Regions from separate parts of the Homo sapiens genome. Here all the other regions are linked to region 4. The links come from fine-mapping of genetic effects on gene expression. A gene starts in region 4. Each other region holds a variant in brackets. All regions are shown on one strand. Distances are from middle to middle. Region 1 overlaps CD247 (CD247 molecule). Region 2 holds the start of LOC101928512 (a long non-coding RNA gene). Region 3 overlaps CREG1 (cellular repressor of E1A stimulated genes 1). Region 4 holds the start of CD247 (CD247 molecule).

The links.
Region 1: its variant is fine-mapped to the expression of CD247 in whole blood (TOPMed, PIP 0.94).
Region 2: its variant is fine-mapped to the expression of CD247 in whole blood (TOPMed, PIP above 0.99).
Region 3: its variant is fine-mapped to the expression of CD247 in caudate (GTEx, PIP above 0.99). The same link has a PIP of 0.9 or more in skeletal muscle.

What each region holds. Positions count from the first base shown.
Region 1 is chr1:167,437,236-167,445,235 of GRCh38, reverse strand. It overlaps CD247 (CD247 molecule), which reads left to right. Exons shown (of 8, transcript NM_198053.3): 2 at 4,469-4,572; 3 at 5,836-5,892; 4 at 6,586-6,666. Among named protein-coding and RNA genes, the nearest start is that of CD247, 77 kb to the left of the region's middle. RefSeq lists a silencer at 5,693-5,822. The variant A/G (reference allele first, on the strand shown) is at 4,082.
Region 2 is chr1:167,452,497-167,460,496 of GRCh38, reverse strand. The region is part of intron 1 of CD247 (CD247 molecule); the gene reads left to right. LOC101928512 (a long non-coding RNA gene) reads right to left here and starts at 5,431. Exons shown (of 4, transcript XR_007066724.1): 1 at 5,299-5,431; 2 at 3,380-3,492; 3 at 2,976-3,128. RefSeq lists silencers at 4,608-4,837, 5,178-5,267, 5,358-5,447, 5,468-5,577. The variant G/A (reference allele first, on the strand shown) is at 4,810.
Region 3 is chr1:167,541,437-167,549,645 of GRCh38, reverse strand. It overlaps CREG1 (cellular repressor of E1A stimulated genes 1), which reads left to right. Exons shown (of 4, transcript NM_003851.3): 2 at 1,525-1,644; 3 at 3,361-3,545; 4 at 7,345-8,209. The coding sequence ends at 7,348. Among named protein-coding and RNA genes, the nearest start is that of CREG1, 8.2 kb to the left of the region's middle. RefSeq lists a cis regulatory region at 1,061-1,078 and an enhancer at 997-1,141. The variant A/G (reference allele first, on the strand shown) is at 3,086.
Region 4 is chr1:167,515,353-167,523,557 of GRCh38, reverse strand. It overlaps CD247 (CD247 molecule), which reads left to right and starts at 5,029. Exons shown (of 8, transcript NM_198053.3): 1 at 5,029-5,150. The coding sequence starts at 5,093. It also overlaps the pseudogene AKR1D1P1. RefSeq lists enhancers at 5,198-6,397, 5,669-6,632.

The DNA of each region.
Region 1 (8,000 bases), 78 kb after region 4:
TATCATATTTGGCCAGGCACGGTGGCTCATGCCTGTAATCCGAGCACTTTGGGAGGCCGAGGCGGGCAGATCACTTGAGGTCAGGAGTTTGAGACCAGCCTGACCAACATGGCAAAACCCCATCTCTACTAAAATTACAAAAATTAGCAGGGCATCGTGGTGTGCACCTGTAATCCCAGCCACTTGGGAGGCTGAGGCAGGAGAATCACTTGAACCTGGGAGGCAGAGGTTGCAGTGAGCTGAGGTCATGCCATTGCACTCCAGCCTGGGCAACAGAGTGAGACTCCACTTAAAAAAAAAAAAAAGTATCGTATTTAACCCTCACCACCATCTAATGAGACAGGTAGTGTTGTTATCCCCATTTTACAGATGAGAAAACGAAGGCTTAGAGAAGTTCCATAATACACAGTTCAGAAGTACAGTGTATAAGAAGGACCAAAGCTTTAATTTTATTGCATCTGTTTGACAGAAATTTACATTTGTTGTAGGGTATGGCTGCATCTCTACAGAAGGCAGGGCTTCCCTCTCACATGCTGTGGCCCCTGTAATGATGCAGGTCTGAATCTCAATCCATTCATGGCCATGCAGTGAAGTCCCCATGCCCAGGTTCCACTCCAGGCCACTTAAGTCAGAGCCTCAGGGGAGAGGGCGGTGGATTGAGAGTCTGTGTGAGAATGCTCTATTAGTCTCTGGGGCTCCTTTCAGATGCTGAGGTTCTCCTGGGTGCTGTACTCTTGGGTAGGGATCAGGAACATTAAATAAAACAGCTTCTCCACTTTTACAGAAAAGTAGCTACCATGTAATACCCTGAAACCTCCTAGGAAGCAGCTGCTGGTCCCTTTGGGATGGAATTGGTAGAAATACGAAGAAGCCACAGGAGCGCGCACAGGGAAGAAGCCAGGACCAAGTAGAGAGTGGCGATGCGGTGCCTTTGAGCTGGCATCCTGCAAAACTGTCTGTTGTCCAGGGAAGCTCCTACACCTTGTGTGCGGCCTCAAGAGCTAAGACTTAAGCCCCATGAGGGCAGGGACTCAGAAGACTCGACCCAAATATCAGACATCATTGTCTTTTGATTCTCATCACAACCCTTAAGGTAGATATGATTACCCTCCATTTAATAGATGAGGTAACTGAGGCCCAGAGAGGGAAGTGACTTGTCCAAAACCACACAGCTAGTAAGTGGCAAGAGAAGTACTCGAACCCACCTGCACGCAATCCAGAGTTCATTCCATTTCAATAGTTCCCGGCACAGAGCAGATGCCCAATGAATATTTAATTAATTGCGTAACTGAATCAGGTCCTGCATCCCTGCATGGAGCTTTCTGGGCCATGACTGTCTTCCTCAGGCCCATCTCTCCCAGCACAGGTATAGTGGGACCGAGGAGAGGAGGGTCCTACACAGGGAATTATGTTGGGGTTAATATCCTCTCCTCCACCCAACCACACACAGCACACTTGTCATCAGTCATAAAACTATGCAGAAAGAAAGGAAGAAGGAAGGAGGGAAGGAAGAAAGGAAGGAAACTTGTTCATATTATTTATCTCAGGGACATGCCCAATCCCCCTGCCCCTTTGTGTTGTGCTGAGTCTGCACAACACAAAGAAATATTTCTTATTTGTGCTAAATTTACTGTCCAGTAATTTTTCTGTTCTAATTTTCTGTGACAAGCAGCTGAGTGATTTTCTCCTGGATTTTCTTCTGAGTCTCAACCAGTCCCATAAATCGCCACGGTTATCTCCTCTGCAGTCCTCACAGCAAAAAGTCACCCCAGCTTTGGTGGCCTTCATGGGGGCTGGCTTGTCCCCCAGAGGCCTTTAGATCGTCCCTAGGTCAGTGAGGACTTCCAGCAATACCTTGGGGCCAGAGGGCAGGCACACCTGGGGCTGGGCCCAGCATCTTCCTCATCACTGAAGTTCAGCCCTGAAAAATTCCATGATATCGAGTGATTGTCTACCCTGTGCCCTGCACTCTGATGCTGGGGCTGGAGGAAGAGGCAATAATGAAGATGCAGCCATTGGTCTCAGGTGCTGACAGCCTAGATGGAGGGGCATCTGAGTCCTGAGGAGTTGGGTTTGTAGAGCGCTTTGGGGGATATAGGCTCTTGAACCGACATCCTCTCACTTTTTCCTCAGGGGCTCAGGTGGTGGGACAGTCTGATTTCAACAGGTGTTGAGTGGAGGGGTAGAACGCAAGCCTAGAAAAAGATCTAGCTCAGCAGGCCAGGGGGTAGAAAAATATGGGTGTTCAAGGAAGAATGGGGGGAAAAGACAAGAGCAGAGGGACAGGGTGGCACAAAGCTGTGGTCTTTTCAGGCCTGGACTGGTTATGGCAGAGCCCTAACATGGCTGGACAAAGAGCTTGGACTCTCGTCCGAGTGGCTGGGTCATCAATGGTCTCTGGGCAGGGTCTGTGGGAGGTTTGTAGAGATCAGCTGCCTGGGGGCAAGAGGGGTCCTGAATTAGGGTTGGAGTCAAAAGCCAGGGGACAGAGGGATTCAGGGTGGTGGGGGTGGGGACACTGGCGGCTGCCTTTGAATCATCTGCTTCCATAGTTCGTCAGGGAGGCCAAAACGTTGCTGGCATGGAGGGGTAGGCAGGGCTGGCCCAGGGGCAGGAAGGGGGCGAGAACTGCTAGGGATCAGTCCTGGGCTGCCTGTGACCGTGTGCTCTGAACCCGAATACTCGGTGCCTCAGTGTCCGAGTGTGGGTGGCAGGAGGATCTGACGATGATTACATTTAAGGCAGTGTCTGAAGAAATGTTAGTTTTCACCCTGTTCAACAGAAGAGGCAGCTGACAGAGCATACATAACCTGCCCCAAATCACACAGCCAGAAAGAATGACAGCACTCCCACATATGGCCTCCACTCCCTCTGCCCTCATCTGGGTCCAAAGGCCACCAGAGGGCGCCCAGGCCTTGGGAGACAGACACTAGCGGGGCTGGCCTGGGACCTCTGCTCTAGTTACCAGGCAGGGGTGGAGTGAGATGGGTACCACACCCTGTTTTACAGGTTGAGTTGCTGCACGTTTACCTAGTAGGAAGTATGGTCAGACTAAAATCTGAGTCTCCTCATTCACAGTGCAATGATGTTCCAAATAAAAACACTAACTTTTTAAATTTTTTTTTGAGACGGAGCCTCACTCTGTGTGCCAGGCTGAAGTGCAGTGGCGTGATCTCGGCTCACTGCAACCTCTGCCTCCCAGGTTCCAGCGATTCTCCTGCCTCAGCCTCCAGAGTGGCTGTGATCAAAGCTGCCAGCCACCACGCCCAGCTAATTTTCGTATTTTTAGTAGAGATGGGGTTTCACCACGTTGGCCAGGCTGGACTTGAACTCCTGACCTCAAGTGATACACCCATGTCAGCCTCCCAAAGTGCTGGGATTACAGGCGTGAGCCACCGCCCCCAGCCCAAAAATGCAAACTTTTATTTAACCAGAGTATTTAGTGTATCTGCATTCTTCAGCCCATTGTACTCCAATGGCAGTGCCAACTAAACGTGCATTAACTACAGCTTGACAAAGGTTAATATGGCACTAGGAGTTAGGGGCCCCTGGGAAATTTGCAGTGGGAGAAGCTAACACAGAAGGGATCTTTGAGCTGCATTTTGTAGGATGCATCAAATGTTACCAAATAGTAGGGTTTCAGGGAGAGAAATGGAGGGAACATGAAGAGGGAACAGAGAGTGCAAGGCACAGGGCAAATAGTCTGGAAGAGCAAGGCGTGTCCTGGGAATGGGGTGTGTGTAGTGGGAGGAGGGGAGACAGAGAAGGCTGAGGCCATGGAGCTGGGACTAGGGGACAGGGAGATGCTGGGCCTAGGTGGGGAGGGGCACCAAAGGTACCTCTGTCTGTTGGCCATGAAACCCTTCAGGGAACAGGGAAGGGAAGCCGAGCACCAGATCCCACTGTCCTAGGCGGGAGAGTGCTTGGCACTGAGGAGGCAGGGAGTTGGGGGAGAGTTAACCCAGATTCTCCCTGTCCTAGTTAACTGTCAGATATTGAAATGATCTCATTTGACCATCATTTGACCTATTGTCTCCCTGTGGGTAGGCCTCAGAGCCACACACCTCAGGCCAGGAGTACC[A/G]TTCATCCAGACGTGAACATCTTCCCGAGGCTTCCAGAGTTCTTGGTTCACACCGGGGCTAACATGGCTGGGCTTCTGCTGCAGTGGCAGGAGCTCTGTGCACAGAGAACAGCCTCATCTGCTCGCCTTGTTTCCACCTCCCCTCCCATTGCCCCAGGTTCTTTGGCCCCACAGCGGCCACATCTGCCGTTGGTGCCAATAGGTTTTCCAGGAGCTGGTTGAGGTGGGAGGGAGGGAGAGGGTTGTGATCAGGCTGAGGCATGGGGATTGGATATAGTCTCCGTGTCATGATTTATTTGGTCAGTCAGTCCTAGTGCCACCCTGGGGTAATGGGGATGTGTTCTCGTCACCTTGGGCCTGGCTGACCAGCTTTATCTCTTGGCACAGAGGCACAGAGCTTTGGCCTGCTGGATCCCAAACTCTGCTACCTGCTGGATGGAATCCTCTTCATCTATGGTGTCATTCTCACTGCCTTGTTCCTGAGAGTGAAGGTGGGTACCACTGGGCTTTGGGAGGAGGGCACGGGGTCCCCCACTTGATGGATGTTCAGAGGGGCCTTGGTCTTGGAAGGTCTCAAGCTCGGGTGGTGCCTGGGGCTTGGTATCCAGGAGCAAAGCAAGGACCAGCCAAGTGTGTGCCTTGAGTGGGCTGAGGAGGAGGTGGCAGTGTCTGGCTGAGATGGACAGGGTAGGAGGGAGAGCCTGGTGCTAGGCACCTCCATGACAAGCCGTACAAATGTGTGCACATCAGAGTGTCCCAGGGAAGGCGATGCTACTGGTGACAAAGGGGCTTACACTCAGGCAGAGGTCCTTCTTTCCAAGTGTGAATGAAGGCCATGTTAGCCTTTCTCTTGAAAAGGCCCTTTCCTCATCTGTAACTGGGGAGCTGACCAGAGCGTGGGTTTTTCACTTGGTGCCTTGCAGACCCTGGATTTCTTCGTGGGGCTGGTCATGGTGTGGGCAGAGATTGGAAGAATTTAGGAGTAAAGGGGAGAATCCAGTCCCAGTCATCACTTCAGTGCTTCTCAACCCATTTCTTGTTTGAATTTTGGACTTTGGCATAATATTTTATTTGAAAAACCAAATCTTACTGAGTTTCTTGTTTTAAGTTTGAAAATGCTGCCCTAGATGATTTCTAAGGTTGTTTCCAATGCTCTAGATCTGTAAGACATTGCAGTTTCTCCCGCCTGAAGCGGCATGAAGTGAAGCAGGAGTGAGGCTGTGTCAGCTTCCCACAGATGCTCAGGACACTAAGCGAACGCGAGGCTTCCTGGGCACCGGGGCAGCCGGGCGATGGCTGAGGGCTGGGCGAGTGATGCACGTACAGTACACTGCTCCGGGGGTCAAGATAGGAGGCGGGATCTTGACCAGCCGCCATCCACCCTGGATTGTCCTCAGAGTCCCCGGAGGAAGGGATCCTAGAGAATACTCATGTCCCCGGGGGCGCAGACCAAGAACCTTATACCTCTGCGCACGCGCGAGGGCGCTAGCCCGGGAAGAATAAACTCCAGCGGGTCCTGGGCCAGCGTGATGAATGCACGTGTCACAGGCGGGAGGAAAAAGGACAACTGGGCTCAGAAAAAGGGGCTGCCACGCCCCGGCCCCTGCAAGGGCTCAGCCCCAGGAGGCAGGGCAGCATTGTTAGTTGCCAAGGAGCGGAGTAGGGCTGTCCCTCGGGTCGCCGCGCGCCCTGGCACCCCGGCTCCCCTGCGCGCCCTCGCGGAGCAGTAACGCGCTTTGCTTTCTGTGTTGCAGTTCAGCAGGAGCGCAGACGCCCCCGCGTACCAGCAGGGCCAGAACCAGCTCTATAACGTAAGTCAGCCTCGCCGTAGACCCTCCGGAAAGGAAGGGCAGCCTCCTCCTCGGACCTAGGGAACGCGCCCGCCAGAGTCTTGGGTTTAGGTTTGGTCCCTAGCTATCACCTCTGCGACCCGGCTGCAACTTGTTTAACCTCAGTTTTCTAACCCACAAAACAGGTGTAGTAATTGTACCTGTCTCAAAGGGCGCCATAAAGATTACATGCTTTAATGTCTTGATGCATGGAACGAGCTTAGTCTAGTGCCTGCCACTAGTGAGCCCCCAAGCCATCAGCAATTTGCAAAGGCTAGAGGGGGGTGGAGAAGGAATGTATTAGAATCTTCCCAGAGGAGGGGAAAGCGATTTCACACTCCCTGTGCAATGGGACTGTGGTGAAATTGACTACCACCTCTGAGCCCCCACTTCTCTATTTGCTCATGAGAATGTTGATCCTTATCCCGTTGGACTGATCAGCCTATAGTACTTGGTGACCTTTGGGGATCCCATCCACTGTCATGTTAAGGCGTGTTCTCTGAGATGTCCTCTGGGATGATGGTCTCCAGATGGACCAGTTACCATCCCCTCCCCAGCCCCTGCCCCTCTTTTTATGAGCCACCCCAGAGAGGGAAACCACACTCCCCAGTCCAGCTGGCTCCATCCTTCTGAGGTTCCTCCGTCCTGTGTCTGACACTTTCTTATCTGTTATAGGAGCTCAATCTAGGACGAAGAGAGGAGTACGATGTTTTGGACAAGAGACGTGGCCGGGACCCTGAGATGGGGGGAAAGCCGGTAGGGGTTCCTCTACCTTCCTGTGTGTTCCTGCATGTGTGGTGGGGCTCAGCCCAGGCTGTGGGGGAGGGCTCCTCAGCTCACTCTGCAACCAGACTCGACCCTCACATGTGTGGGCCCAGGACAAGAGAAGAGATGGAGACCCACTTGCTGCCGCACCCTCTTCCTTCCTCCTTGGCTCCATTCTGCATCTCAAGGGGCCTCACCCCCGGACGTGGCACCCCACTGCTCATGTCTAAGCTCTACCCACTTCCCCTCAAACTGCTCCTTGGCCATCCTGAGATGCACATACGGTGACGCCATCTGCCCCAAGAGGACAGACCTGGTGAAGAGGTCCATACAGGAAGGGCCCAAGACCCCTGGATAACCCACATATGGTCGGGGTATGGTCCCTGGGGGGTTTGACCTCTTGGCTTTGTAGACACTATACCTGTGGGTATACCTGTGGGTAGGGGAGCAGCTGGATGACACCACAGTAGGGTAGGGTCCTCTTTGTTTTTTCCCCTTCATTCTGATTTCCTTCCTTCCTTCCTTCCTTCCTTCCTTCCTCTGTCTTTATTTATTTTATATTGACAAATTATAGTTCTACATATTTATGGGGTACAAAGTATTGTTATGATTTTTGAATATAATATGAAATGATTAAATTAAGCTAATTAACATATTTATCACTTCAAATCTTTAACTTTTTTGTGATGAGAACATTAGCAACTTACTCTTAGAGATATTAAAATGTATAGTACTCACATATTAACTATATTCAGCATGTTGTGCTGTTGATCTAAAAATAAATTACTCTTCCTATCTAATTGAGGCTTTGTACCCTGTGACTATCATCTCCCCATTCCCCCCATTCCCCAGCCTCTGGTAAACATCATGCTACCTGTCCATGCTTCAGTGAGTTAAACTGTTTTAGATTCCACATATAGGTGAGAACATGGAGTGTTTGTCTTTCTGTGCCTGGCTGATTTCACTTGGCATAATGGTCTCTAGTTCCATCCATGTTAGAGTGAATAACAGAATTTCTTCCTTTTTAAAAGCTGAATAGTATTCTATTGTGTGTATGTTCCACAGTCTCTTTATCTGTTCATTCTTTGATGGACACTTAGGTTGATTCCATAACTTGGTTATTGGTTTCTTTTGTTTTGTTTTCTTTTTTTTTTTGAGACAGCGTTTAGCTTTTGTTGCCCAGGCTGGGGTGCAACGGCACAGTCTCGGCTCACCACAACCTCTGCCTCTAGGGTTCAAGCAATTCTCCTGCCTCAGCCTCCCGAGTAGCTGGGATTACAGGCATGCGCCACCACGCTTGGCTAATTTTGTAGTTTTTTTAGTAG
Region 2 (8,000 bases), 63 kb after region 4:
GATTTTTCTGAAGCACAGGTATATTGCCCTTCAACATCTGAGACATACGGCTCTTGGTCATAATCTTATTTCTTTATTTTTATTTTTATTTTTTGAGACAGGGTCTCACTCTGTCACTCAGGCTGGAGTGTAGTGATGTGATCTTGGTTCACTGCAGCCTGGACCTCCTCGGGCTCAGGTGATCCTCCCACCTCAGCTTCCCGAGTAGCTGGGACTACAGGTGCGCACCACCACACCCAGATAATTTTTCTATTTTTTGTAGAGACGGGATTTCGCCATGTTGCCCAGGCTAGTCTCAAACCCCTGGGCTCAAGCCATCCTCCCACCTCAGCCTCCCAAAGTGCTGGGATTACAGGCGTGAGCCACCACACCTGGCCCATAATCTTATTTTTGTTCAAACTTTCAGAGGATTAGGGAGGGAGAGTAGAAAACACAGGAATGATGCCAGGAAACCTACCCTGGGTTCAGCCCCAAAGACAAGAATTCGGGGAAAACCTACCTGACTTGATCATTTATTCATTCATTAAACCCTTATGATTGCCCACTGCATGGTGGTTAGCTGGGGAGTGAAGAGTCAAAGAAGAATAAAACATATCCCAGGCTTTGTGGAATTCTCAATTTTTAACGGGGACAGACCTGTCACCAAATATTAGTGAAAAATGTGCCAAGAACTACAGAGCATCTGAAAAGTTAGAAATATTACCATAAACTTACTTTAAAACAGAACTTTAGCCACATTTTCAAATAATATGCTCATGTTTTTCTTCAACCTTCACACACCATTTCAGGAAGTATCTCTACATTTAAAGCGAGTCCAGTTGTTAATGTAAAAAAGGTACAAGAGGCCAGGGCACAGTGGCTCAAGCCTATAATCCCAGCACTTTGAGAGGCTAAGGCAGGCGGATGACCTGAAGTCAGGAGTTTGAGACAAGCCTGGCCAACATGGCAAAATCCTGTCTCTACTAAAAATACAAAAATTAGCCGGGTGTGGTGACGTGTGCCTGTAATCCCAGCTACTCAGGAGGCTGAGGCAGGAAAATCGCTTGAACCCGGGAGGTGGAGGTTGCAGTGGGCTGAGATCATGCCACTGCACTCCAGCCTGGGTGACAGAGCAAGACTTCATCTCAAAAAAAAAAAAAAAAAAAAAAGAGTTGTAAGGAAAAAGCCAGAGAAAGTAGTGTATTTCTTGAACCTTTAAAAAAAATTAACAATTGGACCCATTTCTTTACATTTAGAGGTACTTCACCTGAAAACATATCTAAAGGTTACAGAAAAACATATTGACTGTATTATTTGAAAATGTAACTAATATTCTGTTTAACAATAAATTCTCCCCATGATTTTTTTTTTTTTAAAATTTTTGAGACACAGTTTCACTCTGTCACCAAGGCTGGAGTGCAGTGGCTTGATCTCGGCTCACCGCAACCTCCCCCTCCCAGCTTCAAGCAATTCTTGTGCCTCAACCTCCCGAGTAGCTGGGATAACAGGCGCACGCCACAGTGCTCAGCTAACAGATTTTTTTTTTTTTGTATTTTTAGTAGAGACGGGGTTTCACCATGTTGGCCAGGCTGGTCTCGAACTCCTGGCCTCAAGTGATCCGCCTGCCTCAGCCTCCCAAAGTGCTGGGATTTACAGGCGTGAGCCATTGCTCCCAATTTCTCCATGATTCTTGACTTTTAGGTCACTCCATAGAACAGAAACAGATGCCCATTGTGAAGGTTCAGTGAGCCAAGATTGCACCACTGCACTCCAGCCTGGACAAGAGAGCAAGACCCTGTCTCAAAAAAAAAAAAAAAAAAAAAAAAAAGAAAGAAAGAAAGAAAGAAAAAAACAGATGCCCATCAAAAGGAAATGCATTTTGCTGAAAGTAGCGCAGTTTTCCCAGGGAAATAACATTTGAGCCGAGCCTTGAAAGATGAGTAAAAGTTCGTCAAGCTGAAAAATTTCATCGTAAGATGAGTCGAACACAGGGTCATTGTGAGCCGTTGGCTGGCCCCCGCAGAAACCTGGCAGCCCCTTTCAGGTGAACCTCCAGTCCATTCTTTATTCAGGCACCAGTAGGATGCTGTGCTGGGTGGCATTCCTGCCCCAGCAGGGGCTAGGCCTGAGTCACATGCAGGGCAGGGGCCTGGTCACAGCCTGGGGCCTCACCTGAGAAAGACCTGTGAGAAAACATCCCAATCCCACTCATTCCTGCCCACACCAGGGCTAGGCACGTGGGGACAGCAGGGACGGTGAAGAGCATGTTTGGGAATGTGATGTTCTGTGGTGGCTTGTTAGGAAATCATAAGTAGCTTTCTCCTGATGACCAGCTTGAACACTGGATCGCTGAGCAGGGCACAGGTGGAAGGAATCAGAAATTACTGTATTAACACCAGTATTTTGGAGGCACAGAAACAAGGGGTGAAGCAACTTCCCTAAGGTCACGCACTTTAGGTGATAGCACTGGTGTAGGCTCCCATAAAAATGTTCTTTCAGGTCTCTTCGAACTCATAGGTTCTTGAAAATGTGAGGGGCGAAATTCCTTCATTTTATGGCATTAATGACCACTAATCAATCAATCATTCTCTCAATTATCTGAGCAATTATGTAATTACTGAGTCCTAGTGATGCCTACAACTGGGCTTCCTACAGTCCTGCAGTGGTAGAAACAAAGGAACTAGAAATCACGGTGTTTACCTTGGAGCAACCTACAATCTAGTTGCATAGGAAAGAACCCATTTGACACAATGAGAGTAACAAAAACAACGAATGCAGTTGACATTGGAATGGGCTGGAGCTTTGGGAGAAGGAATCCTTAGGGGAAGATGAAAGCTAAGAAAGGCTTGGAGACCATCAATGGAGAGGAAGGGAAAGGACAGTATCTGGATGGAGAGCTCTGGGCAATATTTAGGAAGACTCAAGAGCGCCTGCTCATGAACAGATGGACAGACAAGCGTGTGCTCCCTCCTGAACTCACAGACTTACTGGCTCACCTCACAGCAGGGCTCCCCTTCCAGGCTTTGCAGGTGATATGGTTCCTTCTCCATCCAGGATAACTCCAGTGAAGGATGGACAGAGGCAAGATTCTAGCTCCATTTTGGCTGCAATGTGTCCTTGTTCTTTTCTCCTTTGCTGGTCATTCTGGTCTGTTTGGGAATTGGACTCGTTGTCTCTGGTCAACTAACCTCTAACCCTGCCAGGGGGACTAAGCATGCTACAGAGCGCCCAGGTCCCCCACCTCCCACTTCCATATAGCCCTGAGCAAACCACTTAGAGTCTCTAAATGGCCCAGAGCAGCTTGTGGCTCCATTCCAGGAGCAAAAGCACCGCTGAGAATGTGCGGATGCAGCCTGAGACCCCCACCATGCCAGCTCCTAGCGCTAAAGCAGGCTGGTACCTCACACTGCTTTCAGAATCTTCTAAGACACTGTGGGTGTGAGGTCTTCCAGGCAGGCATCAGCACCCACCAAGCCGGTCCTCAGAAAACGACTGGAGGTAGAGAAAGCAGGGCTGGAAAGAGACAAAGAAATTCCAGGACTGTCCTCACTAGCATATTCTAAACGAAGCAGATCTTCAGGCAGCCGTGTTAGGTATGATGTCCCCGAGAGAGTACACATTAACATGACAAAGTTTGAGGAATGAACATAAGATGGCCATGCAATGTCAAAGTCATGGCTCACTTGGGTGCTTCTCTGACAGAAGAGATAGAGTGTGGCACCAGTAGTCCCTGTTGGGTTCTGTGTCTACAACAGAGAGCTTTGGGGCTGCCCTCCCTCACAGAGCAGGCTTTCTGCAAATGCTCAGGTAGGGCTGGATATATTCGTAGAATCTTCCAGACCCATCCAACCCAGAAGGTGGTGGTCCCCGAAGAGTGGTGGTGTACATGAGAAGCTGGGGGAACGTGTTACAAGGCAGACCCCTGGGCCGGCCTTCAGAGAGTCTCATTCACCTGCTCTGGAAACACTGCTAAGGACTTGGCCTCTGCTGTGAGCCAAGAGGAGGAAAGAAACCCCTCTCACTCTAGAACTACCTTTTTCTGCCTCAACCACCTTTTTTCCTGTCTTTTAAAAATTTCCAAAATTCTCTGCATCTGTAGTTTTTGTTAAGTACTTTGTCATGCCACCTGGTTAGCTCAAGCCAGAGACAATCAGGAAAAAGCTCTATCAGTGGCTGTCAACTCAGCCACTTCCCTCCGTACCGTGGTCCCTCATTCCTGCAGCTGGGTGGGAGCCAGCACAGCCCCAGGCACAGGCAGTGCCGGCATGTATTCTCGGAGCTCCACACAGGAATGTCCCACTCTAGAAGGGAAGATAAAATTTAGCGCTCTCCATGCACTGGGTATGTGTGCCAGGAAAGCCCTGAAACTTTTGCTCACAGGGCTCAAAATGAAAGCAGCTGTTGATTCCGAGAGTGGCAGGTTTGACGACATTTGGAGTCCCCCTATGTGAGAACGGAGAGACCCCTGGCGCTTCCTCCCTGCTATCTGAGGAAGGGGGAGGGGGCGGGGGGTGGGAAGGCCCAGCCTCTCAGGGTTGCGTCTCTCCGGGGCTTCCCAAGGAGGCAGCGCCGGCCCTCCCAGTCTTGCCACTGTCGCCGTGCTCGTGTGCCGGGCCAGCCGGAGCCAGGCCCGATCCTGGCCACTGTGCCCACCACCGAAGGCAGGCCCCAGGCCGGGTCCCTCTCCTTGCCTGTCTGGGGGACCCTGGTGTCGGGCTCCTTTGATATCTAAAAACCAGACCCTCGGCCCCCAGCGCCGGAGCCCGGCGCAGATCCACGCCCTGGTCTCTCAGCGCGGGGGCCTGGGGGCGGGTGCGGTTCGGGGACAAG[G/A]GACCGCAAGTGGGGGCGGGCGGCAGCGTGTGAGCAGCTCAGATGGGAGATCACGCGCGATAACCCGGGCCCTGGATGGCAGCGCTCGACAGGAAACCTCGAGCGAGGAGCCAGCTGGGGGCCGGCGGGGCGGGGCTGCTGCTCCCGTAACCGCACGGGAGCCGCGGCTGGCGGCAACACGGGGCTGGGAGCCCACCTTGGCTGCATGGTGAGGAAGGGCCGGAGGTTCCTTCCCAGGCCCAGCCTCCTCTCTGTCTTGCGGAGGGCGTCCTTCACGGGTGTGGTTTGTGACTTTGGGACGGCGGTCCCGGCCGCCTGGGCTTTGGGCGTAGTGGGAGAGCTGCCCAGCCCGCAGTGCACCCGGCGTAGCTTTGACCCGGGAGGGACCCGGCCCCAAGCCGGACGCGGGGAGGCCAGGGCGGAGAGGCGGCGTGAGCGCGGCTTAGCAGGCTGAAGCTCGTCTCTTTAAAATCCCAGCGAAATATTCACCTATAGCGTATCGGTGACGGTTTTAAAATCCAAGTGGCATTTCCTCTCCCAGCCTCCGAAAAACTCGGTGCAGTGGGCAGCGGCTCGGCGGGGCGTCCCCCTGTGCCTTGCGTCCGGGCGGGCGGCCCGCAGCGGGAGGAGCCCAGGCGCGGGCACCGAGGGGCGGAGGCCTGGCCCCGGCTCGGGGAGCTCCGGGAGGAGCTTGGGCTTGGGCTAGCCGATGGATGCACGGGTTTCTTCCGGGGAAGCTGCGGGGGCCACAGGGACTCTGAGGAGGCGCCCTCAACAGCCTGGGACCGGCAGGACGGATCCCAGAGCGAGGGCGACCAGCGAGCGAGGCAGGTGCGGCCCTCCTGGCTCCCCCTCCGCCCCTGTCCTCCCTTGCGTTGCCCAGGCAGCCTGAGCTCCCAAGGCCCAGAGGGTCTCCAGCTTACAGTTGCAGTGGGACTGATTCGGTGGATCGGAAAAGCGCTTTCATCTCACTCGGCTGCTGGTGAAAGCATCTCGTCCTTACAGCACTGGATAATAACAATAGTGATCATGCTATTTACCAGCAGTAGTTGGTTTTCTGTGTTCATATATAAATGTAACCATATTCACCAAATACCATTATCGTGAAAGTTCTGTATAGCTGAGGTCCTTCCAAACCCCGGCAAGTCATCACCAGAAATGTACTGAGCCAGGGCTGGGCGCAAAGCGCTTCGCTAAATGGGCCAGCCCCTGTTCCTCCACTTTCTGCCCTGCCAGAATCTTGCCGCACACACCTTCTTTGATGTAAGGGTTCATGTTATTTGTTTTTGTTTTGGTTGTTTAGTATTATAAATATTATATACTATCATAGTTAGAGTTCCAAACACCACAAAAAGGTGTAAGGTGGAAAATAAGTGAAATTCACCCAGCCTCCCCCTCCCGTGGCTCCTCTGCAGAAGTAACCGTGGATGACATTTTTGTGTGTGCGGCCCTCCAGATATACATATATTTTTAACGTGTTTTTTCTTGTAAAATAATATAACATTACTATTTTCATTTTTAAGTGTAATTCAGTGACATGAAGTAAGTACATTTACATTATTGTACAATCATCAGCACTATCCATTTCCAGAACATTTTCACCATCCCAAACAGAAACTCCATCTAGATATATTTTTATGTATATATACATATATATGCAGCTTACATAGTGTTTTTTTCATACACAAGTATCTAGAGCTTTTTTTGTTTTTGTTTTTGTTTTTGAGGCAGGGTCTAACTCTGTTGCCCAGGATGGAGGGTAGTGGCATGATCACAGCTCACAGCAGCCTCCACCTCTTGGGCTCAGGTGATCCTCCGACCTAAGCCTCCGGAGGAGGGGGCTGGGGCTACAGGTGTGTGCCACCACACCCAGCTAATTTTGTTATTGTCATTATTTGCAGAGACGGGTCTTGCTATGTCTCAAACTCCTGAGCTCAAGAAATCCTCCAGCTTCAGCCTCCCAAAGTGCTAGGATTACAGGCATGAGCCACTGCACCTGGCCACCTTTTTTAAAACCTAATTATCTTGAAGATCTTTCATGGTAGCACATGTAGAATTATCTGTTGTGTTTTTTTTAACGGTTATATATGAATACACCAAAATTTATCAGGTTCCTAGTTGATGGACATTTACATTATTTTCTCTGTATACTGTGAGAGTTTATCCTCAGAAAAAATTAAATTCTCAGAGAAATGGCAAAATACTGCCTGGAATTTTGACATAAGGGGTTTGCTCGAAAGTAGATTTTTTTGAAATGGTGCTAATTTTCAAGAGCAAAACTTGAGGGCAGTGTGCTGCGTGAGAAAGAACAAAGGCCCGGCAAGACCTGGCTTCTCGTCCAGGCTCTGACACATGAGCTGTTTGACTGCGGGAGAGTCACTTCACCTCCCTGACCTTCAGTCTCTTTATCTGCAAAGTGGAGCAAATAAGATCTACCCGGCTTACCTCACTCAATTGTTGTTAGGATCAAATGAAATAAAAAATATAAAAGGGTTTTGTAAACTGAAAGTGTAGAGCAAATGTTTGGTATGACAATGATTGTTACAGCATCAGTCCCTGGAGTCAGCCAGAGAAAGCTACATGTCCAAGTTGGCAACAAGAGGTAAGAATAAGTGTCTTTCTCTCTGTATATCTATAATATATATATATATAATATATATCTATAATATATATATATGCACACACACACATACACACACATATTGCTCTCTATGTATATATGTACATGCATACATATATGTTTGTATTGTTCTATTTATGTGTGTGTATATACACATATGTATGCAAGTGTGTGTGTGTATCTTACACTCTATGTGCCTGGCATATAGCAAGTGTTGTCTGCTAACCTGAGAGACTTGTCCACTGGCGTTGGGGGGCTCTTGGTGGAATGAGCGGAGGGAACTGAAACATGCAACCTGCTCACCAAAGGAGATCACTTGCCTGTCATTGTTTACTCCCAGAGCGTGACTGCAGGCATCGTCCCTCCCTCATGTTTCCTTAGCACCCTGTGCCCCTCTCTCGTGGGATGATTTGTTTCCTTGCCCACCTCTCTGCTCGGCTGGGAGGCTACATCTGTGTCTGTCACCTCCACCCTCACTGCCCAGCACAGTGCGTGACATTTTCTCCTAGTAAGGATGGCCACCACATGACCACTCGTGAGGTGCCACTCCTTGGCTTGTAGGTGGCCATCT
Region 3 (8,209 bases), 26 kb before region 4:
TTTGGGAGGCCGAGGTGGGTGGATCACAAGGTCAGGAGTTCAAGACCAGCTTGGCCAACATGATGAAACCCAGTCTCTACTAAAAATACAAAAATCAGCTGGGCGTGGTGGCACACACCAGTAATCCCAGCTACTCGGGAGGCTGAGGCAAGAGAATCGCTTGAACTTGGGAGTTGGAGGTTGCAGTGAGCTGAGATCGCACCACTGCACTCCAGCCTGGGTGACAGAGCAAGACTCCGTCTCAAAAAAAAAAAACAAAAAAAAATTGCAGTTATTTGGGTTGGGAGTGAAGCCTGTTTCAACATTTTAACCCAAATCAGCATTTTATCAAGCTCTCCAGGCAGGTGGTTCTTAGAAAACAGTGCCTAAGGTTGGCCCACAAATTACAATCTAGACTCCTTAACTTAGGTTGGAGCCCTCTCCACTCCCAACCCCAGGCTCCTCCCGTAGGAAAGCCCTTCTTTCCAGCAAATCAGGTTTCTTGGTACTGTTCATCAAGTCTTAGGCTCACCCAGTTCTGTGTTTTTTGCAGTCAGTGTCTCCTCTCCCTTTAATATGTCCTCCCACCTTCTATCCTGGTTTTGAATATATTATAAAGCTCCTTACAGTTCCTCTATCACTCTGGTCTATGCTGGACATACACATTTGTTTATGTCTGCCTTTTCAACCAGATTATAAACTCACGGAGGGAGAGAGTTTACCTGAGTGTCCCCCTCCCCTTCTTTGGTCTCCTGTGGTGCCTTGCCTAATAGTTTCTAGACAGTGACTATTTGGCTAAATGATTTCAAAGAAATCTCTTTATGACTCTTTGTTTTGATGGGTCAGTGTGAAATGGCAAAATTCTCCACACAAGGCACTTAGAGCTTAAAGAGCTAAATAGTCTAAAATGCGATGTGTGAATTTTGCTATAATCTGTCAACAGTGCCTTTTATGAAGTTGATTTCTGAATAAGAAAGCATTAAGAATTTTACTTGTGTTACTTTTTGAATGTGGGATAAAACTCATTGTTACTAAAGCAGGAATGAACAACTTCTCCAGTTTTGAAATCACATGACAGTTTCTGCTAATGTAAGATAACCAAGTAGCATGATTCAGCTACTTTCTTGCTTAAATCGCGTAGTTAGCCAATTGAGCAACTGTGGTGTTTTTAGCAATGGTTTTGTATAGAGTTTAACCCTTTAAATCTTTCAGTGAAGCCTATAGAACAGCCTTGAATTTGGGTGTCACTATAATTATAATTCTTCTGATGAATATGGAATAAATTCAGGGTTTCAGAAAAAGAATATTGAAATAATTTTTACCAAGTCAGTTCATTTTAAATATGAACCCCCGCACCCCCTTTGGGGAGTGGTCAGGATACTTTCCAAGTATTATTTTCCCCTGAGTGGAAGGTGATGTTTTATGATTCATTGTTTCGTGGAAGACCAGTCAAGCTCTAGGGACATCATGTATGCAACTTTTGAAATTTATTACCTCTCCAGAAACCATATTTCACATGAGAGGATCTTCATTTTCTCTCTATAGGAGAATCCATATGCTACACTGACCATGACTTTGGCACAGACCAACTTCTGCAAGAAACATGGATTTGATCCACAAAGTCCCCTTTGTGTTCACATAATGCTGTCAGGAACTGTGACCAAGGTAAGTAGTTATCCTACAGGAAGGGAGATGGTTTCAGAACACCATCGTATTCACAATGAAAGAATAGATCATTTTTCTTTTGAGACAGAGTCTCACTCTGTCTCCCAGGCTGGAGTGCAGTGGTGTGATCTCGGCTTACTGCAACCTCTGCCTCCTGGGTTCAAGCGAGTCTTGTGCCTCAGCCTCCCTAGTAGCTGGGATTACAGGCACGCACCACCACACCCAGCTAATTTTTGTATTTTTAGTAGAGATGGGGTTTCACCATGTTGGCCAGGCTGGTCTTGAACTCCTGACCTCAAGTGATCCACCCACCTCGACCTCCCAAAGTGCTGAGATTACAGGCGTGAGCCACTATGCCTGGCAGAATAGATCTTTTCAGAATGAAATGCAGTTGATTTGTGATTGCCATGCCCAGTCAGAACATGTTCTATTCTAATAGGTGAAGTAATTCCATGAAAACCAAACGTTTTAATAAGTTGCTTTCATATAGGTGTTAAATAAGATATGACAAAAATGAATGATTTTCTGAAGCCAAGCAGATGTAACAACTATGAAGCTCCTGTATATAAAGTTATTCTTACTAAAGAGCATCTGGTTGACCAAAGCCCTCTACTCTCCATTACATTTTACATTGGTATAATGTTTTTCCATGTCTGGGCTCCTTGTCTCCATATTTTAACAGTGGCTTAAAGCAGAGAAAACATATTAAGTAGGCCAACCAGAGGACTATCCATTACTGAAAACTGGAAGTGAATTTAGTTTGGATCACCTGCTGAAGGGAAGAGGTCAAATACAATCTCAGGAAGAGCAGTGGGCATGGTGTCAGGAGTGCTGATCTGATTACCCAGCCAGCAGATTTGCTTTTTGACCGTGTCAATCATTAATGCCTCAGACAAGTGTTATTTATGGTCTGTAAATTCTTTGTGGATGCATCTCTGTAGTTGAGTGTCCTTCACTGGCAGGAAAAAGATGGAGGAGCAGCACATGCTTTTGAGTTCTGTTATGTGGTTTCTAAACATTTTTATCCTTCAGTACATTCATCTGTATGTTTAACATGTCCATGTTATGGGATAAATATGCTAAACATTACATGTCTTAGGCACCAGTAATGTTACAGTACTTAGTGCTAGTTATTCTAATAGCTCAAAATGCCTTTTTACCAATGAAAGTTGGTATTATACTTACAGTGGTTTCCCACTTCGTGGTATCTGTTATTACCAACAATTGAAATCTTTATTCTCTGCATTCTTTACATTTCCTTTATTTTCTCTTGATTCCTTAAGGTTAAGATCAAGATTTACAAGTAAGTAAACTCTTAGGATTTATAGAATGCTAGAGTCACACATTCTTTTTTTTTTTTGAGATGGAGTCTTGCTCTGTCATGCAGGCTGGAGTGCAGTGGCACGATCTCGGCTCACCGCAAGCTCCGCCTCCCGGGTTC[A/G]TGCCATTTTCCTGCCTCAGCCTCCTGAGTAGCTGGGACTACAGGTGCCCACCACCACATCTGGCTAATTTTTTTTTTTTTAGTAGAGATGGGGTTTCACCGTGTTAGCCAAGATGGTCTGAGTCTCCTGACCTCGTGATCCGCCCGCCTTGGCCTTCCAAAGTGCTGGGATTACAGGCGTGAACCACTGCACCCGGCCTAATCACACATTCTTAACAAATGAGAAGATAAAGTGTTACTGCCATAAGAATGTTTATTTCATATATGTCCTTTAGGTGAATGAAACAGAAATGGATATTGCAAAGCATTCGTTATTCATTCGACACCCTGAGATGAAAACCTGGCCTTCCAGCCATAATTGGTTCTTTGCTAAGTTGAATATAACCAATATCTGGGTCCTGGACTACTTTGGTGGACCAAAAATCGTGACACCAGAAGAATATTATAATGTCACAGTTCAGTAAGTACTTACACATCTTTCACCTAAGATTGCCGCCCTTACAGCCATCCTCAGCCTTCTAAGGCAAGGGGGGTTTAACCGTTTCATGTGCCCTGGACACCCTGGGCAGTCTGGTAAAGCCGCTGACCCCTTCTCAGAATAATGTTTTAAACACATAAAATACAGAGGATTAAGAAGAAAATCAACTATAATGAAATACATTTATGAAAATATTTGTAAATGTGTGGTATAATCGTTTTATTAATATATTAAATATAAGATCTAGTAATAAGTCTATTACTTTTTCTTTTTTTTTCAAGACAGAGTCTTACTCTGTCACCCAGGCTGAGTGCAGTGGCACCATCTCAGCTCATTGCAGCCTCCACCTACTGGGTTCAAACGATTCTTATGCCTCAAGCCTCCCAAGCAGCTGGGAATACAGGCATAGACCACCACACCCAGCTGATTTTTTGTATTTTCATAAAGAGGGTGGTGTCGAACTCCTGAGCTCAGGCAGTCTGCCTGCCTCAGCCTCCCAAAGTGCTAGGATTACAGGCATGAGCGACCATGCCTGGCCTTTTCTGTGCTTTTAAAGTAGTGAGGATTGAAGACAATATTTTAAGACATCTGCAACACCTGTGACATGATATGAACGTATCTGTGATTTCTCTATTTCTGTTGGAGACAGTCACAGATAGGCTGTCACCCTGTGGTTTATTCCCTACATTCATTATTGAAGGAAATGATACATTCAGTTAGAGCCTAATGAAAATGAAAAAAAAATTTTTTTGAGCCAAGTTCGCAGACCCCTGAACTCTGTCTACAGGCCTGGACACCAGGTTGAGACTCCATTTTAAGGCTGTGCTTATTGGGCCCTGAACAGAGCCCAGTTATGACCCACGATGGCATTTTCTCATGAGGCTTAGACTCAGGTGCTCCTGGACTGTGAATGCCCTTCATCTGAGTCTGAGCAAGTAACCCCATCCCATCAGCCCCAGTACTACAAATGCCTATGGGGATGTGTGGTTTATCCCACTAAGAAGTGCATGGAAGGGAGGAGGCTGAGATAAAAGAGGCCATGGGAGAAAATAAAGCCCAGGACCTGAAGACAGAAAGGGAAAGGAAAGAAGAGTGTAACTGGAGTCTTTGGAGTTAGCTAAGGGTTCAAATGAGGGAATACAAGGGACTGGTGCTTCTCCCAGGTGACACAGGGAATTCTGGCATATCTGGGGAGGTGATAAGAACAGTAACAATAACAGCTAGTGTCCATTGTTTATTACTGGCTGGGTGCTATACTGGCTACTTTTCATGTATTAACTCATTCAGTTCTCACCACATCCCTTTCTTGCGCAACCTTCCACCGCAACAGGTAGGTGCTGTTTTTCCACATGTGTGAAATGGAAAGCTGATGCACAGAGAACAAACTGGCCTAAACTGTTTGTTCTTGCAGCCAGGAAGTGGTGGTGCTGGGACTCAAACCCAGGCATTCTTGCTCCAGAGCCATCACCTGACTTCTATCCATGATGCTGTACTTCTCCTCTGGCTGCCTCACTGGTAGCTGGCCAGGCTCCTAGCTCAGTGTAATTTATAATGCACTTTCTGCTTGTAATGATTGACTGCTGTTTCAGGAGATTACGGTGATGATAACTAAGGTAGACTTGTAGGTTGTAGGTCATTTGAGGGCTTAAATTCTTAGCATTTATTTAATCTCTGTCTTTTTCAATTGTAGAACAATTCCGTGTTGAACTATTGACTCCCTACCATGATTGGAAATCTCAGTTTTGTTTTGTTTCTAATTTTTTTTAATTCCAAGCAGGGCCTAGGACAGTGTGTGTCATAGAGCAGGTGTTTAGGAATGATTGTCTGGCTCATTACTTGAGACAAACACTCTCACACTCTGTTGGAATAAAGAATCCCACAGTCCTGGCGCTTGTTTTGCTGCTGTGCATGCAGGAGAGGCACGGGCCACTGGTCGTCTTCTGGGCTGGCAAAGCCATCTGACTTCATAGGAATATAGAGGTAGCAATTACAACTTTATTCCCTGGCAACAAATTATCAGGATGACTGTTAAGAAGGGCCTGCTCTTCGAAGTTAAAGTTTACTTTCACAGGACATAATCTCTAAAGCGCAGTTATCTTTATATAAATAACATGCCCAAAGGCAGTGCCTGGTTTAATAACAAAATAAAACTGTTTTCCCATAAGTCTCCACACTGAATAAGTGAGTAAAACAGATACTTTTGAGGTTCCCACTTTATTATGCTGACAAAGGAGCACTTCTCTGCAGCACAGAGATAGAACATTTTTCCCTTGTCCTGAGAGGCGGCCCAAAGGCTAGAGCAGATGTGACTCTTCTGAGGCAGTGCACCAGAACCCGAGGGATGGGCAGGGCCTGAAAGCTGCCCGCTCTGACCGGGTGCCTCTGGCTAGGAATTGTCCATCTCCGAGTCTAGGAGTGCCCCCACTAATCCCACCCGCCAGGTTTGCCACCAGAGCTGTTTAATAGTCCGGGGAGTGTACAGTGATATCTGTGAGGACCAGGGCCCCCATCTTCTTGGAGAACCACCCACAGGGGCCTCACAGGCGTTCTGGAGCTTCCCCACATTGGCAGCCACCTTGCTTGGCTTGCCCAGATCGGTTTTGGAAGGTATTATTCCTCCAAATACCACGAAGCCCTCTGCATCTGAAATCTGTTTCACACAGATGGAGACTGCCACTTGTGAGAGCTGATACGGAGCTTAACTGAATGTGGTTTGCCTCATTGGACTGTTGGGTGAAGCCCCCATGAGCATGTTTGCATGATCAGTGGAAGGCTTAAATGTCTACACGAAGCATTTGCTGGCACCCTGGAATAAGCAGTTCTTTTTTTTTTTTTTGAGATGGAGTCTCACTCTGTTGCTCAGGCTGGAGTGTGGTGGTGCGATCTCAGCTCACTGTAAGCTCTGCCTCCTGGGTTCATGCCATTCTCCTGCCTCAGCCTCCTGAGCAGCTGGGACCACAGGCACCTGCCACCACGCCTGGCTAATTTTTTGTATTTTTAGTAGAGGCAGGGTTTCATCATGTCAGCCAGGATGGTCTCAATCTCCTGACCTCGTGATCTGCCCGCCTCGGCCTCCCAAAATGCTGGGATTATAGGTGTGAGCCACCGCGCCCGCCCAACAAGCAGTTCTTATAAGCATAAGCATTGCTTTTGACCACTGTTAAGTCTGGGCAGCAGCATGTTTGTGCTAAGCCTCATTTTATCTCCTCTGGCGCACATCCGGATATTTCCTAGCAAACACACAGGTAACAAAAGGTCATGGATTACAGACTTGCCCAGTCTTGATACCTAGAGATGGATTCCCTGGTTGGTGGCAGCAGAAAGGGGGAAAGTTCACCTCCCAGCTGTGGTCACTATCACTGGGCAATGGCTAATCACTGCTCTTCTGCCCTGATGTTCAGGACCCCTTCTGTTCTCAACTATTTTTGTCTTTTAAGCCTTCAGATACTCTTAAATGAGATAACAACAGCAGCCACGGCAGTGGCCTGCTTCTTGCTACATCCTAGTAGCGTTTATCAGTGTGTCAGAATCATACTTGGAGAGGAGGGTTATTGCTAAAATGAGGATTCCTAGGCCCCACCCTCAACCTATTGAAACCGAAACTCAGGAGTCTGCATTTTAACAAACCCAAGTGGTTATTTAGTATATTCTAGTGGTTGAAATGAACTGAAAATCTTAATTTAGATCAGAAATTTTATCTAGTCCTTCCCTAGAATGAATTAATTTTTAAGATTTGTTAACCCAGTTTAACAAAATAATTCTTCTCTGTTCCCCTTTCTAGGTGAAGCAGACTGTGGTGAATTTAGCAACACTTATGAAGTTTCTTAAAGTGGCTCATACACACTTAAAAGGCTTAATGTTTCTCTGGAAAGCGTCCCAGAATATTAGCCAGTTTTCTGTCACATGCTGGTTTGTTTGCTTGCTTGTTTACTTGCTTGTTTACCAATAGAGTTGACCTGTTATTGGATTTCCTGGAAGATGTGGTAGCTACTTTTTTCCTATTTTGAAGCCATTTTCGTAGAGAAATATCCTTCACTATAATCAAATAAGTTTTGTCCCATCAATTCCAAAGATGTTTCCAGTGGTGCTCTTGAAGAGGAATGAGTACCAGTTTTAAATTGCCCATTGGCATTTGAAGGTAGTTGAGTATGTGTTCTTTATTCCTAGAAGCCACTGTGCTTGGTAGAGTGCATCACTCACCACAGCTGCCTCCTGAGCTGCCTGAGCCTGGTGCAAAAGGATTGGCCCCCATTATGGTGCTTCTGAATAAATCTTGCCAAGATAGACAAACAATGATGAAACTCAGATGGAGCTTCCTACTCACGTTGATTTATGTCTCACAATCCTGGGTATTGTTAATTCAACATAGGGTGAAACTATTTCTGATAAAGAACTTTTGAAAAACTTTTTATACTCTAAAGTGATACTCAGAACAAAAGAAAGTCATAAAACTCCTGAATTTAATTTCCCCACCTAAGTCGAAACAGTATTATCAAAACACATGTGCACACAGATTATTTTTTGGCTCCAAAACTGGATTGCAAAAGAAAGAGGAGAAGAATATTTTGTGTGTTCCTGGTATTCTTTTATAAGTAAAGTTTACCCAGGCATGGACCAGCTTCAGCCAGGGACAAAATCCCCTCCCA
Region 4 (8,205 bases):
TCATTTATCTTCTTTTGGGAATTGTCTATTCAAACTTTGTGCCCATTTTCTTATTGAGTTGATTACTTTACTATTGAGTTAAAATAGTTCTTTACATATTCTGGATATAAGTCCTCTGTCTGATGTATGTGTTTGGACATAATTTCTCCTAGTCTATGGCTTCTTTTTCATTTTCCTACTGCTGTCTTTCAATGAACAAAGCAAAAACTTTTAATTTTGATAAAGTCCAGTTTACCAATTTTTTCTTTTATGGTTTTTACTTTTTGTGTTCTATCACAAATATTTTTCTCCTATGTTTTATTCCAGAAATTTTATAGTTTTGGGTTTTACATTTAGGTCTATGAACCATTTTAGATAATTTTTGTGTATGGTATGAACCGAGGGTCAATTTTTTTTCCATGTGGATATCCAGTTGTTCTACCACCATTTGTTGAAAAGACTACCATTTCCTGCTGAATTTTTCTTGTACCTTTATTGAAAACCAATTGACCATATATGTTTAAGTCTATAGTACCCTAAGTACTGTATGATAATTACACCCCTTTTATTGTTTGATATCTGGCAGGGTTATTTCACTCTCTTTACTCTTCTTTGCAAGAATTTTCCTAACTATTCTTGTGTTTGTTTTAGCATTATTTTTGTATTGAGATATAATTCATATAACATAAAATGTGTCATTTTAAAGTGCATACTTCAATGGTTTTTAGTATATTCACTCTGTTGCACACCATCACCACTGTCCAATTCTAGAACATGTTCATCATCTCAAAGGAACCCTCATAGCTATTGACAGTCCCAATTCCCCACTCTCCCCATCCCCTGGCAACTACTAACCTGCTTTCTATCTCTATGAATTTGTTTATTCTGGACATTTTATATAAATGGAATCATACACTATGTAACCTTTTGTGCCTGGCTTCTTCCGCTTAGCATAATGTTTTCAAGGGTCATCCCAGTTGCAGCATGTAACAGTGCTTCATTCTTTTTGATGGCTGAGTCATATTTCATTGTTTGGATACGGCGCATTTGCTTATCCATTCCTAGTTGTGGCCATTCGAATTGTTTCCAGTTTAGGGCCACTGTGAATAATGCTGCTATGAACATTCCTTTACAAGTTTTTGTGTGAGCCTAGGTTTCCGATTCTCTTGGGTATATATCTAGGAATAGAATTGCTGGGTCACATGATACTATGTTTAACTTTTTGAGGAACTGCCAAATTATTTTTCACAAGGGCTTCACCATTTATATAACCCACAAAAATGTATGAGAATTCCAGTTTCTCCACATCCTTATCAACACTTGTATTGTCTGTTTTCTTATTTTAGCTATCCTAGTGGGTGAGAAGTGGTATCTCACTGTCGTTTTGATTTGTATTTCCCTAATGACTAATGATGTTGTACATCTTTTCATGTGCTAATTGGCCATTTGTATGTCTTCTTTGGAGAAATGTCTATTTACATCTTTGGCCAATTTTTAATTGGGTTATGTTTTTTATTGTTGAGTCATAGGGGTTATTTATATATTCTGAATCCTAGACCCTTATCAGTATATTTACAAATGTTTTCTTTCATTCTGTGGGTTGGGTTGTCTTTTCACTTTCTTCGTTCTTTCTTTTGTCTTTCTTTGTCATCATATTTCATGATTTCTTGTGAACAAAGTATTGTCTAGAGGACAAGCATTGTAAGTATTAACATCGGAATCAGTGAAAACAATCAGTATAGATCAAGTTTTTAAGTGATACTTTCTCAGAAATGTATGTGTACAGGTCATTGAAGATTATCTATAAGCAATTGGTCTTGGAAAAGCATAATTTTTGAAGAACTCTCTTGCCCTGTGAGAGTGATCTAATATGAATGAATAAAATATATTTCTGTAGTTGAACTGAAAATAGGTACATCTCTGTTGTTGAATTCTAATAATTTTATTCTCTTTAAAAATTTACATAGAGTACAATTACCAGTGTTCTTTTGAACGTGCTATTTTCTCAAAATTCACATAGCTATCCCAATAACACTCTTAAAGACTTAAGCATAGTACTTTTATAAAGCCTCTTCTTTCAATATGTCTCCTAAAGTCCCCTTATAAAATGTCTTGTTTTAAAATAGCCGTCTTTGGAATACTTTATGATGCAGAGTTTTATTTATGTATGTTGGTTGTTTCAAGCCACTTCACGTAATGGTGATTCGATGATCAATGTGGCAAGAGTGAATATAAGACAATGTAAGTATGGACCACTAGTTATGTTGAAACTCAGACCCTCTGAGGATGCAAAAGAGAACCAGCAAGTATGCATCCTTCAAGCTGAGTAAAAGCTAAACAAACATACATCGGATAGAAACAAACAACAATAAAATCCTTATGGCTTTGTTGATCACTGTGGTGTTTAATTGACTCTATTTTAAGACTTTTCTACACTTAGCCCTCTCTCCCTACTCAAGGTGCAGCAAATCACTTTTTTGTTAATAATGCATGTCTGGATCTTATCTTGGCTGTGTCTGTATTGCAGTCAATGGTTCAAGTCCTCAAGGCCACTGCCAGCACCCTGGCACATGGGGGCCCTCTGCTGTCTTTGTTGTCCTGTTGACTGCTAAAGAACTCAGGCTAACAATGTTACTACCCACATTCATGAGTTACTTGTTGCTGGTTGTCATCTGTTGCCTTTCAAGTCTTTTCTGGAATCTAATTGTTTTTTGTTTGTTTGTTTGTTTTGTTTTGTTTTTGGTCTGGAACCCAGAAGACATTTATCTAATAAAATATTAGGTGATAATTTCCTAAGAATTTCAACAGATTTAAACATTTTGTCTTTAACATGGGTGAGTTAAAATCACTTACACTATACAAAAGTTAAGCATGTTTCCATCACCACTTTTCAGATAATAAAACCTCTTTCATTTCCGTGTCCATGGGGAACTATGCACCCTAAGGTCCTCCACACGTGGGAGGGGAGAATCTGTTCAGGAACTCTCTGAAGTCAGTATTCATCAAGAAATGGGTATTTGGGATGATCACACCACATGAGCATTTCTATGAAGCGGACATTTTCACTCCAGGCTTCAATGTCCTTGATTCAGTGAGAGAAAAGTCAAAGGCCTGAAGGTTTTCCTTGATCTTTTCAGGATTAAAGCTTTTAGGAATGACAACCACCCCTTGCTGGATGTTGAAACGCAAAATAACTTGAGCTGTGATCTTATTGCACCTTTTTAGAAGTGCATCCTTTAACGAAGGCAGAGAAGACATATTTGTCCAGGTTGGATTCCTAGTGGTCCCCAAAGGGCTATATGCAATCATGACAATGTCATGTTGTTGGCGAAATTTCAAAAGTTTTGGTTGGGTGTAATATGGGTGGCACTCAACCTCGTTGCTGACTGGCTTGGGTTTGAGTCCTGGGTTGTTCTGGATGAGCTCCAGCTGGCCTGCTGTTAAAACTGGATACTCCGAGGGATTTCACCAAGCCAGCATCTTTACAAGCTTCCGAAGTCTCCCAAGTGGCACACAGATTTGACTTGTGATATAACCATTTGCCATTCTCACCTATAGGGTAGATTTTGTCTTCTGGCTTAGCGGCCATGGGTATTTCAGTGATGTAAAGATCCACACAATCTAGCTGGAGGACCTTGAGCATCCTCTCTAGGCTCGGGCAGACCAGCTCTGGGTTGTGATTTGTAGCCCACAGTTTTCCACAGTAGAAGATATCCTTCCTCTGCACCTTTCCTTCTGCTATTTTCCCCCTGATGGCCTCCCCAGCTGTGTCTTCATTTTGGTATATGTAGGCTTCATCAGTGTGTCAGCACCCCAGACCAATGACAACCTTCACTGATGAAGACTCAGACTAAATGTAGAGACAGACTACTTGGGCTGTAGTGACATCTCTACCTACCACCTACTTGCTGTGTGGCCTTGAGTAAGTCATCGGCCCCCTTAGGGGTCAATTTAGGCTCTGAGTAGGTACCAAGTCTGATGATGGGAATGCTGTTTCCATCACTTAGAGGTATGCGGTGATTTGCAGGACTCACTTTCTTCATAGTGTCCTTTGATGCACAAAAACTTTTAATTGTGATGAAGTCCAATTTATCAATTTTATGTTGGATTGCTGTGACTTTGGATTATTGGCTATTCTTGTACATTAATTTTTTTCATATCAATTTTGGAATCAGCTTAACTTGTTCTAAAACTTTTTGTTGGTATTTTCAATGAAATAGATTGATTAATTAAGAGAGAATGGTGGTCTCCTTAAAAGAGAGCTTCCTATCAAAGAAGGGTATGCCTTTCCATTTACCCAAGTCCTTTCGGCGTTCTTCAGCAATGTTTTAAAGTTTGTTTCATATAGATATATTACAATTTTTAGACGAAGTTTATGTCTAGGTTTTAATGTTTTATTATTGTAAATTACTCTGGTGTTTAAATGTTGACAACTAACACAAGTGTTTAAAATACTATGTGAGCTACAGTATTTCACACAATGATCCAAATTCAGGCCAAGTTCAGATCTGCAACCTCAGATCTACTCCAGCTCTTTGCTTTATAGATAAGGAAGCTGAAGTCTAGAGATGTTGAGTGACTGACTCAACGCCACACAGCAAGTAGGTGGTAGGCAGAGATGTCACTAAAGCCCAAGGAATCTGTCTCTACATTTGTCCTGGACTCTAATCCAGGGTTCTGTCATTTTGCCAGCCACCATAAAATATTTGACAGTCTAGGAAAACAGCAAATGTTCTTACATCCATCGAGAACTTGTATTTGCCTAGAGATGGACTTTACCAATCAAGATAGGAATTAGATAAGAATTATTTTTTTTAAAAAAAGGAGCATTAAAACAATGGTCAAATGAGAGAAAAAGCAAAATTCAGACAGACAGATACATACACACACCCCAAACCCTCAAACCTCCAGGGCTTCCTGCCTGTGAACCGAAAGGGGGAGTGCGAATTTCTTGGCCCTGTCGGCAGGTGCTTTCTCAAAGGCCCCACAGTCCTCCACTTCCTGGGGAGGTAGCTGCAGAATAAAACCAGCAGAGACTCCTTTTCTCCTAACCGTCCCGGCCACCGCTGCCTCAGCCTCTGCCTCCCAGCCTCTTTCTGAGGGAAAGGACAAGATGAAGTGGAAGGCGCTTTTCACCGCGGCCATCCTGCAGGCACAGTTGCCGATTACAGGTAGGGCCGACGTGTCGACGGCAGGGAACTTCTAGAAACTCTTTGTGTATGTGTAGGGGAGTGGGTGTGGGTAGTGGAGGGTGGTGAGGGGCTGGGGTCTCCTTCAAATCCTGCCCTCCTCAAATCAATGGGCAAGTGAGCAGTGAGGGGTCCGGCCCGGTGCTGGCATCTGCTCCGTCACAGCCGAGTTGGGCATCAGTTCAGAGCCAGCTGCTAGAATACACAGCTCCTCCAGGTACAGATTTTTCGAGTGATAAGAGAGGAAGGAAGAAGGAAGCAAGAGAGCAACCGAGGCAGGCCCAGGGTAGAGAAACGGAGAGGGAGTGTTTCACAGAAGCTGGACAGGATCGGAAAATGTCAGCCAGGCCATGTTTCGTGCTGCGACGTTCTAGTCCCTTCAGCTTCTTTCACCCTCTGGCTGGCTCCGTCACTCAGCCCCTTTCTTTCTTCCTTTGCCAACAAAGAAGATTTTGTTGGTCAGTCAAGGTCATGGCCTGAAACACTCCAATGGGCCCGGGAGTAAGTGGGGTAACCAAGGAGGAGAGGGGCACAGGCAGGAAGCACCGGGTGGCAGCCTCCACAGCGCCTTCGCCACCTCATGGCCAAGCGTCCGTGTCTAGGCTCAGCCTTGTCATGGCTGTCCCCACACCCACGCCTGGGACTGCCGGGTGACGCACCATCCCAGGCTCCGTGACTCACCCCAGCCTGCCCCTTAGGCGGCCATCTAGCCCAGCCAGAGGGCCCGGCATTGACAGAACACGGGGCAGATGAGACGATGTGCCTGGTTAAGTCACCACCACGAGCAGCGCCCAGCCAACAAGAGTGCTTGCTCCTCACCTCATTCCCGATCGTGGGAGCCCAGCTTTGCTGCAAGCCTTTAGCTTCCACCATGTTTTCTAGCCCAGGTAATGAGGAAGAAAACCAGTGAAAAGAGGACAGGACAAACTGCTCAGGGGGATCAGCCTCGTGGCATCTTCCTGAGAAGTGGGGCAGGCTGAATTTCAATCTAAAGAAACAGGGAAGGTGAAGCAAGCAAATGTCCTCGGCCCACCTGATCGCTCCTGGTAACTCACCTGGGTGTGGGAATTTGTTTAGGGGCCCTGTTGGGAGGGCAGGAGAGGCCATGGGCACTTCTGCTCCCACCAGGGAGCCAGGCACAGCCCGGGCCAGCGCCTCGGGGGATTCTGAGGCCCGTGCAGCTGCAGGGGTTTCTGTCAGGTCACAGCTGTTTTCTCAGAAAAGCCTTGTGGGGTCTAAGTCACACACACAGTGTGGCAGAGTGAGGGTGCCTGAGCTTGCTCAGAGCAGCCCATCCTTGTGTGCTGGGGACAAGGGGACCCAGAACGCTGGAATTTAGTGACTTCAGGGGAGACAGCCAGGGGCAATAGCTCCAGCCTCTGAGCTTCAGGCTTGAGACACCACACCAGGGAGCTCATATAACCTTTCAGGGTCTTTACCTGCAGTTTCCTCACTGGTCCATTTGTGTTCGGCTTGGAGAGACCAAGGTAGGGGCAAAGTGAAGTTAGAAAGAAAAATGAAAGATTGTTGGGTGGCGGTGGCTGCCAAGCGTGGTAAACAGAACCCCACCCAGCAGACAAGATGGGGGCCGTGCCTCATTTCCACAAATAGGGGGCAGGAGGAGAAAACTGCACATTGGCTGGATTTTTTGCTTCTCAGTGCCACTTACTTTGCCTCTATGGAGACTGATATTTTAGCTATTTTAGATAAAGCTAATAGACAAAAGTGTTTCAAAATATCCTAGCCCAGAAACGAGGTACGGTAAGGCAAAGCGCGACTCAGAGAGGCCTTGACACCGAGGGCTGCGATGGTGCTTTTGCTGCCTGAGGGGACACCTCCACAGTCTCCCCGGAGGAAAGGCCGCACATAGAATTTCAGTCAGGTCTTCTCTCTTTTCTTGCTCAGTTAAGTGACCCATTGCATACATCCCTTTTAAAATGTCTACTTTTTACTAAGCTGTTGCATTTGCATTTCTTTGGAAATGCCCAGATTATTAGGATCAAAGCAAATGATGACCTGGTCTGTCCACATGAGGAGGCCTCCCTGAGAGAGAATCTACCAAGACAGTCACCAGGGCTTGAGGCCAGAAGATCCTAAGATGGCGTGCCTAGTGGCATGGGCACACTTGTGCCTGCAGAGCCCTCAGTGCCTCTAACTCCCTACTCTGCAGTAGCCAAGAATGCACCCAGCGGTCAGTGTGGTGTTTGTCTTTTATCAGTGAGGAGATGGAGCTCTGACATGCAGCCTTGGGGAATGCAAAGCTTCCAGGCTTGTGAGTGGCTCTGCTTTTAGGAAGGTGGCTGGACGTGGTAGAAAGAGCCAGGCTAATTTCAGGTGGTGTCCCAGTGCTGCCGCTTCCTAGCTGTGCAACCTTAGGCAAGTTACTTAACCTCTCTGGGCCTCAGTTTTCTCACCTCTAAAGAAAGACTTGTAATACCTTCTTTGCAGAGATGTGACAATGAGAAGTAATGTAATGTGTCCAATACATAGTAGACAGCCAATAAGTAAACATTGTATTTACTATTACTATTATTACATCTCGGACTGTCTTCTTGTTCTCAAAACAGGAGATGGAAACCCATGGCTGGGATTCTTCATTTGCTTTCAATATGTTATAAAGCAGCAGTGGGCATTTTCTCCATCTGTTGCAATCCAACTCATCCCTCTTCTGATTTCTGGGCACACCCATACCAGCACAGAAACATAACAATGATTGCAGAGGTAGGCCCGATAGTGAAAAAGCAGCAAAGCTCTGGCTGGTCATAGGATGACTGTTACATCCACCATTTTCATTTTTTAAAGATACTTACTCTGTAGGGGAATATTCTCCCGAAGTAAAAACATGTCTGAAAAAATATATGCAAGATGGGGGCTGTGCCCCATTTCCACAAATAGGGGGCAGGGGGATTGGCTGGATTTTTTTACTTCTCAGTGCCACTTACTTTGCCTCTGTGGAGACTGACATTTTAGCTATCTTAGATAAGGCTCATAGACAAAAGTTTTTCAAAGTATTACTTTGAAAGGAATCAGAAACAAA